Linked DNA regions of Homo sapiens: region 2 is linked to region 1. Evidence: fine-mapped expression QTL. Tissue or cell type: whole blood. Region 1 holds a variant in brackets; the other region holds the start of a gene. All regions are shown on one strand. Distances are between the middles of the regions.

Evidence for each region. PIP is the estimated chance that this variant, and not a neighbour inherited with it, causes the effect.
Region 2: DIP2C starts here. The variant in region 1 is fine-mapped to the expression of DIP2C in whole blood (TOPMed, PIP above 0.99).

What each region holds. Positions count from the first base shown.
Region 1 is chr10:481,077-487,081 of GRCh38, reverse strand. DIP2C (disco interacting protein 2 homolog C) reads left to right here. Exons shown (of 37, transcript NM_014974.3): 2 at 552-623. Among named protein-coding and RNA genes, the nearest start is that of DIP2C-AS2, 140 kb to the left of the region's middle. The variant C/T (reference allele first, on the strand shown) is at 2,378.
Region 2 is chr10:686,544-692,548 of GRCh38, reverse strand. DIP2C (disco interacting protein 2 homolog C) reads left to right here and starts at 2,881. Exons shown (of 37, transcript NM_014974.3): 1 at 2,881-3,055. The coding sequence starts at 2,971. RefSeq lists an enhancer at 1,571-2,506.

The sequences.
Region 1 (6,005 bases):
GCACCTTTCTCTTGTCTTCTGGATTTCTGCAGGTTTCACACCTTTTGCTTCTTCCCTTAGCCTTTGTCACTCCTTTTTCAAAAACACTGTGGCGGCTTCAAGTCCTTGTGACCGACCTGCTTGGTTAGAAAACATCTTGTTAATGAAGAAGATGCCAATAGGTGCTGGTGTCGGCCATCCCGGCCCTGGCAGCTGCAGGATCTGTCGTTGACTGAGTTAACGAGAGCCCCGGCCACCAGGCTTGGCTTCCTGTGCCAGCGGGTGGGGATGAGATGGCAGGGGTCTAACCCTGGACCCCATCCGGATAAATACAGAAGGGGCCAGAAACAGGCGTGTGTTTAACAAATGAGTTTTAGTGACTTACATGCTGTGGGCTTTTGTTCGAGAGCAGGGGAGGAACTGAAGTTGTTTGATGTGCAGTGCTTGCTTTTAAAATTCTAACAATGAGGCACACAGAAGATACTGTGATAACTGTGTCTTCTTGGGCACCGTTGAATGATAATGCTCTATCCACGGAGACCATACTGAACTTCATTTTCCTTCTCTTGCAGGTGACATCACACAAAAAGGATATGAAAAGAAGAGGTCAAAGTTAATTGGAGCCTACCTTCCGCAGCCTCCGAGTAGGTAACCCCCATGAGTAGCATGAGTCCTCTCATTTCCCGCATTCACTATGTGCCAGAGAAACATCTGGAGGCAGACGCTCCCTTGCTTCCCAGTCGGCAGGAGGAGGCGTCTGGCGTTCACCCTCCAGGCATTCAGTTCCTTTGAGTGATCACACGTGCTGTGTGAATATACAAGGCACAGAGGATTTTTCTATAAGTGTGCCTAATAGGTGTTTTCTCTATAAGTAGAGATCGGTATTGGGTTGGTTACTTTAAAATGCTATAATCGTAAAAATATGAGTGCATTAGTGATTTCAACATATTTGGTTTAGAGAGCTATTTATTACTATTGATTCTGGTTTAATCCAAGGCTTCTGTTGGTGGCACAGGCCAAATCTAGACAGTGCTGTGATACCCCGCCCAGGACTTGGCAATCGTGAAAGCTGGTTGTGTGTTGAGATGTGGTTGCAAACATCCATGATGATTCTTGAGAAGGGCAGTCGGTTTCCCGCCAGCGTTTCTACGTGTGCAGATTGGCAGCTTTCCTGCACTTGAGCTGGGTTCTGTAAATGTCAGGAAAAAGAATCTCATATTAGATGGGGATTCTAGCACCTCAGTTCCCAGCTGGCAAGCTCAATTCAGCCCAAGAGCGACCTTGAAAATTTGGTAGGCTTGAGGAATGGCTTAAAGCTAACACAAGCAGTTTCTTCCTCAAACATAAAGGCTAGCAACATAAATTTTAAAGGTGGAAATTGAACTTGCATAGTTCTTACCATTGAAAGAAGATTTTAGAAGGTTTAAGGATGCACATGTCCACACCTGCACAAACCCCGATTCTGTTCTTCCCGAGGCCCGTCCGGGTCCTGTTGACTCAGTAAGGAAAGTTTCCTGAGGCTCAGGCTGCAGGAAACGGTGTGGAGATTCTGCTATTGGTAGTTTTGTTTTCATTTCGTGTTTTTCTTGCCTTGATTTTTGAGACAGTGATGTAACAGTGAACATGTTTCTGTGGACCTTGCTTAGCAGAGGCTTAAGTCAGGGATAGACGCCGAGGAACCCGAGAGAAGGGGAGCAGAGGGCTGGGCTGGAATGCTGGGGCGAGAGGCTTCAGGGCAGTGCTGGGTAGATCCCCTGATGGCCTGCGCCCCCTCCCTCATTCTCTTCTCGCAGAGCCATGGGGCGACAGCTGCCCCCGCCCTGTCCCTGTGAGTTCCCCTCTGCAGGTGCCCTCATGTGCTGCAGAAGGTGGGGTCTGACTGTAGGCCACGGACGCTGTTGGTTTTAACTTTCTTGCCTTGCCAAACAAAAGTGAAACAGAAGCGGTTCCTCGCTTGCCAGGACGGTTCTCCAGCGCACCGTGCCTCCCGCGGTGGCCCTGGCCTTAGCCGGGCGCAGAGGGCGGTCGTGCCCTGTGGTCCCCTTGGTGGTCTGTGTGCTGTCCTGCATGGGGTCGGCAGCTCTGCTCAGCGCTGTAACAAATTTAAAAAAAACTAAAGTTTGAATTAATTAGTTTTTTTTCAACTTGTTACAGCAGCGAATGGAGCTGCCGTGGTTCGGTGTAGACTGCAGCACAGTGAAGGAGCGCCGAGGAGAACATTCCGCTCTGCCCACATCGGGGTGTGCGACGTCCGAGAAGCTGCGGCTCGGGAGCGGGTGGCCAGCACCGCAGGGAACCGGCCTCTGTTTTACTTTCGTTTCGGTGAGCGCTGCTTTGCTGAGAGCCAGCCCCACAGCAGGGTACACATTAGAAAAGGGCCACCCGCCGAGTGCCATCC[C/T]GTACAGACGTGTAGGGTGTGGCCTTGGGGGCCTGAGGGTCCCATTCTCCAGTGAGCCAGGTCGCTCCACAGGCCCAGAGCTCGCCAGAGACCAGGTCTGTCCCTGTGAATCAGGGCCCAGTTCTGCGTTTCCTATTGAAGTAGAACGTTGCTTTTACAATTCCCCTTTCTCAGTTGGGCACCACTTAGAAAACACTTAAGAAGAATGCGTGACAAATTATAAAACTTCTTAAAGCCACTGGTATTCTACAGACTTTCATCTTATAGCCAAAGACCCAATTAAAGGATGAGCTGATGGGTCTTGGCCTCTGAGATCTGCTAGAAGGAGTGATTTTGAGATTTCCATCTCCAAAGAGCAAAGTAAGGGTTTTTGAAATAGAAAAAGCAGTTAATCATAGAGTATGTTCTTAGAGGTAAGGATTCTGTTCAAAGGTAAGAATTACTTTGGCGGACAGTATTTTGAATACAGGAATTTCATGATGCAAAAAGGGAGTTCAGTGCATTTTCCACCAGAATGAAGAAAATCATATGCAGGTGGAAGTTTTAGGTTCGTGTTCAGGGTTACACTTCAAAATGTGTTTTAAAATCACATACAAGGCCGGGGGTGGTGGCTCACGCCTGTGATCCCAGCACTTGGGGAGGCTGAGGAAGGGGATTGCTTAGGTCCAGGTGTTTCAGACCAGCCTGGGCAACAAAGGGAGTCCCCGTCTCTACAAAAGAAAAAATTAGGCATGATGGTGGGTGCCTGTGATCCCAGCTATATGGGAGGCTGAAGCAGGAGGATTGCTTGAATCCAAGAAGTCAAGGCTGCAGTGAGCTATGATTGTGGCACTGTGTTCCAGCCTGGGGGACAGAGCGAGACCCTGTCTCAAAAAAAAAAAATTGGTAAAATGAAGTCATAGAGGCAAACTTTATTATTACAGTTGGCCACTGGGGTCTCAGAAGAGGACACCCCGCCTCGCCTCCTGGCCTCCACTGCGTTCCTCCTCTCTGGGCCCTCTCAGGAGCCCTCTCTGGGCTGATTCCCTCGCACCCTCTCAGGAGCAAGGGGCAGAGCTGATGAGAAGGCGACAGGGCTGGGTTTTAGCCACGAGGTCCATTTCAGAATTTATCTGCCGGAAACGTGAGGAAAACAGGAGAAGGACGGCCCGGGCCGCCTGATTGAGGCCCAGACACCAGACTCAGGATGGGGGGACTCCGGACAGCGGTGCTAGGGCCCCAGCGAGGCTGTTTCCCTGCCGACCTTCATTTGGAGACGTTGCTTGTGACACGCAAGTGTGCACCATGTGCAGCTGTCCTGGGAAGCAGCAAGGAACGCAGACGTTTCCAAAGCCGAGGCTGCTTTCTTGGTTGGCCCCATGGGACGTGACTTCCTTTGTGCAGGATCTTCGTGGAAAACATCTTTCTTTCTTGTTCCCCTGTGCTGCTGCGCACTTGCCTGTAAGGGGTTTGTGTTCTGATTAACTTCCACCCTTTTTTCCTAACATTTACATTCCTATTCCTCCAGAAACTATTCTAAAAGTGTTTCTAGGATGTTGTTTGGGATGCAGAATTACGAGCTACAATGGGGGTTCTGTTCCCTAGGCCAGCCAGGCACGTCCCAGCTGCTCAGGAGGGCAGCGTCTGTCGGGGCCTCCAGTCGGGATTCAGAAGTGAGCGTTGGTGCTGAGCACCTGCCTAAATCTAGTTGAGGAAAAGACTGTCCGGAGCCAGGAAGAAATGTGAGTTATACATGCAGTGAAAGAAGGGTCAGAGAGGGTGCCTGGAAGATCATCTTCAGGGAGAAGACGCTGCTTAGGGAAGCTGCCCACTTCGCTCTCACCCTTCTGCGGTTCAAACCCATCCCTCATCAGTCTCTAAGCCCAGTCAAAGTTGTAAACCTAGGAAATAAAATCCACTGCCTGGCAGCCTCTTCAGAGAGATCTTAATAACAGTGTCGACTTGGATAACAAGGCCTCACTGCTTGTATGACACAGGCCGTGGAGATTTAGAGAGTAAAATTTCAGTGTGGCTATAAATGGTGGAACCTTCTTTGCTCAGATACAGCTCCTCTTTCTCACAGCAACTTCTTATGTGTTTGTCTGTGAAATGTTTCTTGGTATTGAGTGATTTATGAAGATCTGGTATTCCTCTCCAAGCCCAGCTTGCTTTTCCTTCAATAGCCGGACAGCTTGATGCCCAGGTGCAAGTTACAAGGACTCTGTAAGGGGGTTTGTCTGTGCGGCACAGCCTCTCTCCATGAGGTCACGTGAGCGGCCTCTCCAGGGAAGAGGTATCCGTGGTCAGTGTGAGTTAAGCCCCACACTTTTTCCATCATGGGGTCGCGTGAGCAGCCTCTCCAGGAAGAGGCCTCCCATGGTCAGTGTGAGTTAAGCTCTACACTGTCTGCACCGGAGGCCTCTGGCCTGCAGGCTTGCACTGTGCTGTCCAACTGTTGAGTCAAATCACAAATACGGACTTGTCTCAGTTCCTCCCTGCTACCAGGGCTCCCGATGGCCACGCCGCTGTCCCTCCCGACAGCCATGCCGCTGCATCCACATGAGGAACTCTGCTCAGGCCGTGCACTTGGCCGTGTCCAGGTGGCATTTAAAGCTCAGTTTGGATGCTCTGTCCTGAGGGATTTCTCCCCTGATCCTTCAGTCAGACCATCCGGATTCCCATCTCCATGTCGTCCTGTCTCTGAAATACCACTGTCATAGTTGGGTGGTGGTTACTAAACGCTAAGTCTCCACCCCAACCCCCAGCAGCAGTATGTAAATCACCTGAGGCCCCGGCTGCCTGCTCACGGAAAGTGGACATTGGGCAGGTATTTGCTGTATGGATGTGTGGGTGCGGCACGGAGGGGCTGAGTCTGCCTGTGGGGGTGGGCCGGGGCAGCCCTCACTTCCCCCCGCCCCACTGAGTGACCGTCCCTACCGTGGTACGAGGATGGATGTGCAGTGTCCCTGAGGGCAGACGCCACCGTGTCCGCATGATGCTCAGATCCACGTGAAGCCCTGAACAGGCACCGGAGACCTTCCACTGCCTCAGGTGTCTATCTGGGCTGCAGTTTTATTTTTATTCTTGATTTGGGTAAATTTAAATGGCAGATGGTAACATGTAAGGGCTAATTAATGACTGAAATGACAGAGGGTAACATGTACCTCAGCACCATCCAATCAGTGGAATTTTATTATCTTTTCAGAACTTGGCTCCCATCCCAGTGTTTGATCCTGTGACTGGATCACATGTTCTCATGAGAACAGCTGCTCTGGCCTGAGTGCTGTTGCTTGCAGTGGCTGCCTTGCCCTGTCGCCACGGAGAGGGCTTCCTCTGAGGTCCCGTTGCAGATTCTCCCACTGGGCTTTGACAGTTGTGAGGGAGGAGGTCCCTGCAGTTGGCATTTGTGAATTTTGCACTTTGGTTACATACGGAATGAGAAAGTTTCTTAAGTACGTAAATGCCATTTTGTTCTGTCGTCTTTAGAAGACGTGGCTGGCTGGCCCTGGCCTGTTCACCTGGGCTGGCCGTTGGTTGTTCTGATTCCTCGTGTCAGCAGAGGCTGTGCTTTCCCGGGGCAGGTGCGCAGTGGGTCCGTATTCTTGTTGTGCCATGAGAGTTACAGTCTGGTGACCCCAAGGCAGCGCTT
Region 2 (6,005 bases), 210 kb before region 1:
CTGACATGGGCCATAGCCAGAGGCCTCGACAGGAGCAGGTGGCGCACAAGAGAAATGCTGTGGGTAGAAGTTCTTGAGGGGACTCAAAGTGAAAGGGAGGCTGCTCTCAGAAATAATGTACATGGGGGAAAGTATTGGTAGGTAGGATGAGTTTGATTGTGGACAGCATGAATTTCAAGGAGATGGTAGGAGTTCCAGATAAAGATGATATCTATCAGGCTCCTGGAAATGGCAGTCTAAGACCGAGAGCCCACACTCACACGTGTAATGTGTAGGTGCCCAAAGACCTGCTGAAAGGAACCATCAGCTCAAAATCTGAGTTTGCAATTGATGTGTTTAATGCAAATTACAAGTTTTCTTTGCAACCAACATCAGTCATAGGATCATATGCAAATGATTAAGGCCCATCAAAAAGAATATATATATATATATATATATATATATATATGTATTTTTTTTTTTGAGACTGAATCTCGCTCTGTCACCCAGGCTGGAGTGCAGTGGTGCGATCTCGGTTCACTGTAACCTCCACCTCCCGGGTTCAAGTGATCCTCCTGCCTCAGCCTCCTGAGTAGCTGGGACTACAGGTGTGTGCCACCATGCCCAGCTAATTTTTTGTAGTTTTTAGTAGAGATGGGGTTTCACCATATTGACTAGGCTGGTCTTGAACTCCTGACCTCATGATCCACCTGCCTTGGCCTCCCAAAGTGTTGGGATTACAGGTGTGAGCCACCGTGCCTGGCCCGCGAATATATATTTTTTATTCCGACATTATACCGCCCTAAATGGACTTGACACCATTTATTGCTTGGAATGCACAGTGCATCTTTGCTGTAATGAAATGAACTCAGGGCTTTGCTTTGGAGACTGGGGTTTGAATCCTGGTTCTGCTCCCCTTTCTGTCTCTAAGGACTTTTATCTGTGACGTGTAGGGGCTGTGTGGGATCTTCCCCACGGCCCCTGCATTGCTGGTCGGTCTCTTTATCATGCAAAGGGGAGAGATGATGGTGGGGCCACATGCTTGTGCCACCCGTATCTGTTGCATTGAACGCAGTCTGGAGCGAAGGACGAACCCACGGCGCACACCAGGCGGAGGCACACGGCTCGGCGCAGGAAGCACACGGGTTTGGGGTTCCTGTTTCCCAGCTCATCGTCGAATGTCATTCTCACAATTCCCCACTGAAAGGACCGATCCTTACAGGAAATGCACACACCTCTGGCGGTTGCCACCACTGCTAGATCCATGGGAAGGGCAAAGGTGGGTGAGGCATGGGCTCTGTCCTCCAGGCGCTTACACTCACAAAGAATACAGAGAAGATAAAAAAGGTCAAACGTGATGAGGGCGGGAAGTGGCCGGTGCAGGAAGAGAAAGGAGAGAGATTGTTCTGGACCTGGGGTCAGGGATGGCTGTGGGTGGCAGGGGCAGAGAAGGGGCAGGCTCTCCGGGGTGGAGGCCGGGAGCAGAGGTGCTGCGGGTCAGCCGCGTTGTTTGCAGGAGCCGGAGTGTGGAGGCCGCAAGGCTGCCGTGCAGGTGGGTCCCGGCTGGTGGGGGCTCCGGTCGAAGCGGGGTGGGGGGGTGGTGGGGGGTAGGGGTAGGGGGGTGAGGTGGGGGACCTGTGTTCCTGCGGCCCACTCTGAAAGGGGAGTGAGTGCAGCTGGGCCTCCGGGAGCCAGCGCTGGCCAATGTCCCGTGGAGGACGGGGAGGCGAGGAGGTCTTTAGGAAGCTCTGGGCCTAAGGGAGGGGCCGGGCTGGGAAGAGGGGGTACAAGGATGAAAAGGAGGCCAGGTCGTCGGGGCTTTGTGCAACAGACTGGGGAGGATGTGTGGAGACAGAGGAAGGTGATGATGAAGACAACGGGGGCGGTTCTGAGAAGCAGAACTTCCAGTGACTAAGAGTCACTGGAAGCAGCTGGCTTCATTTAGGGTTTGTGGCGTTTGGGGTGTCTAGGGGCTTCCAGGGAAGTTTGCTCAGTGGACGGTTGGAGATGCGAGGGCCTCCCCAGATGGTCAGGACTAGAGGCACAGACGGGGCTTCAGCCTCGCCGAGGTGGCACTGAGGCTGGGAGCTGATGGCCCCACAAGGAGAAGGACGGTGGGAACCCTGGGGCCTGCAGCCTGTTCCGGGAGGGCTGGAGCCAGGCTTTTCGGGCCCACCTGGCATTTGGAGATTAGGTGACCCAACCTTGTCTTCCCATCCCCTTTTCACAGATGGGGACACTGACCCTCCAGGCAAAGGCTCAGAGTCGCTCAAGGTCATCTGCTGGTCGTTGCATTCGAAACTTCCAGCCTAGCGCTCCGTCTCCGCCTCTTAAAATGTTCATTAACAAAAAACCAGCCCTCCAAGACCCGGGGCACTGCGAGTTTTCGCGCAGACGTCAAGCTGCGGCTCCAGGACGTGATTTTCGCAGGGAGCCGGGTGGACCAGGCTCTGGGGCCGGGCCCGCAGGCTCCGCTGGACGCGCAGAGCCCAGGACAGACAAGACCGCCCCGCCCCGCCCCGCCCCGCGGGCCCCGAGCCCCCAACCCGCCCCCGAGCGCGCCCCCGGGAGCGCGCGCTTCGCCGACGCGGCCGCGCGCCCCCCCGCGCGCTCCCGCTCCTGCGCGTCCTCGCGCCCCGCGCGCGCGCGCCCTGCCCCCGCGGCCCCGTGACGCGCGCGCGCAGAGACGCTCCCGCCGGGCCGGGGCCGAGAGCAGCAGGGCCGGGTCCGGGTCCGCAGCGCCTGCGGGGAGGGGCCGAGCGCGCGCGGGGCGGGCCGGGGACCGTGGGGCGCGGGGGCGCGCGAGGCGGCCGTGGCGGGGCCGCGCTGAGGAGGCGCCGAGGGGAGGGAGGTCCCTGCGCGCCCGCCGCCCGCCTCCCGCGCCCGCGCCGCCGCCTCCTCCTCGGTGCGGTTCCGCCGGGCGCGAGGAGCCGCCGAGACCTCCGCCTGCGAACAAAGAGGAGGCCGTGCGGGGCGCGGCGCCCGCGGAGCATGGCGGACCGCAGCCTGGAGGGCATGGCGCTGCCCCTGGAGGTGCGGGCGCGCCTGGCCGAGCTGGAGCTGGAGCTGTCGGAAGGTAACCGGGCCCCCGCCCCGGGCCGGGCCGCGCTGTCACCGGGGAGGGCCGCGCGCGGAGGGCTGGGGGCGCGGGGCCTGCGGCGGGGCGGGGGCCGGGCCCGGAGGGGGAGGTGCGACCCCAGCCCGGAGCGTGCGCGTCCCCCGGACCCCCAGACCCCGCGCCCTAGGGACGTTTGTGAGGCCGCGATCCCCCGCGCTCTGGGGACGTTTGTGGGGCCGCGATTCCCCGCGCCCTGGGGGTGTCTGTGGGGCCTGGGATCCCCTCGCGCTCTGGGGGTGTTTGTGGGGCCGCGATCCCCCGCGCCCTGGGATGTTTGTGGGGCCGCGATCCCCCCGCGCCCTGGGGGTGTCTGTGGGGCCTGGGCGCCGCGCGGGGACGCAGGATGCAGCGGGCCCGGCGGGATCGGCCTTCCCGTGCGCTCTGCGCTGGAGCCGCGGCGTCCTTGGTGCAGCAGCGCGGTGCGCGCCACCTCCTCGCTGGCGGGTTCGGCCTGGAACGCCCGGCCAGATTTCAATGCGAAACTTGTCGTTGGACCCCGGGTTCGATCTCTGGTGGCTCAGGCCGTGCAGCGGTCCTGGCGCGGCCCGGGGGATCCCACCCCCATTGTTCGCGGGCGCTGCGCGGGGAGGGCTGGGCGGAATCGTCAACCTCCCCCCGGGCCGGGCTCCGGCCTTGCCGTCCTGGTCCTCTCGTAGGAGGGTTTGTGGCAGATCAGCCACCGCGGTCTTATGGAGGGTTGTGTACGCCTCTTATTTGCTCTTCATGGCGGAGATCATGTGCTCAACTGTCATAAGTTTCAGATCGGGCTTTGCCAGGTCTTTTCCCCAAAACCACTGAAGTTCCCAAATCTGAAATGTTTGATGTGCATTTAGCCGTCTCTGGGCTCATCCTGGTCAGGCCATTCCTGTAACGTGGGGTGGGGTGGGGGTGGGCCGGCGCGTCTCACATTTATATTTGGAGCAGTTTAGCATGGTGAACTTTTTTTGGGTAACGGTTTTGTGAGGGCCGGCAGCCAGAAAGTAAACTCATTCGTGCCAATTTTCACCGGCAGGGAGGAGCTGGTGTTGACTTTATGTTTTCCTTTTTAACACTTTCAGGGCAAAGAAGGGAGTGAGCAGGGGCCATGGTGTGCAGCCAACTGCCTTTCCAGACTTCTGGGGACGGGAAATGGTACTGTTTTTCAGTTTCAGATGTGGGGTTCCGCGAGGTGTGTCAGTGTCCTGTAACGTGACACAGTTGGCGGGGGGCAGAGTCTTCCAGGCCTGTGGGCTTGGCTGCTGCCCTCCTGAGGAGCTGAGGATGAGGAGGGCATGGCTAGGAGGCGGGAGCTGCCGTGTGCAGGGTTCGGATGTAAACTGGTAAGTAGATTGTGCAGTGCAGACAGCTCGTTTGGTGGGTAAGGAGTGTATCATTTGCAAAAGGCCCACCCTGGTTATCTGATTGTGTCAGCCTTGGGTAGGTTTCCCGGCTTGCGTCTCGGCCCAGGTGCACCCCTGCCTGCAGCACCCTCCGTGTTCGCTGTCTCAGGACAGGGGCTTCTGTGCTGCCTGCATCACACTGATGTGAAGTGTCAGTGCCCCATCCAGGTCAGCAGAGCGTAGCGCCCCTGAGCTCAGCAGGGCGAGCCCCATCTGAGGGTTCCCCCACCCACTGCTAGCCCAGAAGTTGGACCCACATTTGTTCCCAGAGTCTGGGATGTCTATGGGAATGGGTGTCCTGTGTTGGGCATTGTGGCCTTTTGAGGTGACGACACTTGCCTGTCAGTTGCTCTTGGAGGGTGAGTGATACTGTCTTGCTGCCCAGATGATGGCAAAGCCACTTTCGACGAAGGTGTGCTCAGCCGAATTCCCTGTGAACACCTTGCGTCTGTACAGGTTTTTTAAAAAGGGCTTAATGAGTTAGTTTCTTATTGAGAGACCAGGCAGAGAAAGGGGTGTGTGTGTTTGCATGCAGGAAGCCTAATTATATTTTTCCTTCCACATGAATCTTGCTGAGATCTGAGCTACACATTTAAGAAGAAAGGGTGAGAGGGTTGCTCCGTGGCTCTATTCAGCCTCTCTGCACCCTCCGGCCTGTGCTGGCCCCACTGCCTCATCTGTTTGCTGGATGGTCTTTAACTTTGCTGTGAAGTGTGGGTTTGCCCAGGTTGAGTTTATGGGGGTAGTGCTGTAAGGTCATTTGGAATTCTCTGTCTCATAACCACATAAAACAGTTTTACAGGCTTAAATTAGATGAATCAACTTGTTTTCCAGTATTGCTTAATAGAAATCCAAGAATTGAAGGATCAAAATTCTGTGTTTCTTTATGTTATTGGACTTCAAAAATTCCTCAATGTATCTGCTTTCAGAGTGAAAGCTGAAAACAGCTGTTAATGCTGAATTATTTCCCATCTTCAATCAAAATTCAAGTGGAGAGAATTCTTTAAGTTGGTTGTCATCATTTTATTAAAATATCAGAAAATATTATAGAAACATATGTGGAATTTCCAGTGCTCATTTCCTACAGAGGAGGATGGAAAAAGTTCCGTTTTAAGCACATAACATAGACTGAAGGAAAGAGTAGAGCATTCCCCTGAGGTTCCTGTGTGGGCTGCCAGCCTGCGTGGGTTACGCATTGTGTGGGTTTCTAGACCCTGGTCCAGTTCTGCTGTGCCCGCCTGCTGGGCGCCATTACATGCACTGCTGGTGTCCTGCTTTGCAGGGCTGCAGGGGCACTTCCTGCTGCGGGGCCGAGGGCTCCATCCTTCTTCCACTGCCTGTCCCTGTCCCGTGCCCTGTGCCCCCTCACAGGGGAAGGTGAGGCCAGCTCACACCACAGAGCATGCGGCCAGCAAAACACAAGGGCTCTCTGTGGGGAGAAGTGCTGGGCAGCCCTCTTGTGGGAGCTGATGGCCTCGAATCCATGTGGGGATACATTCAGGTTGTGTGGCCAGGGGGGTCATCTCCTC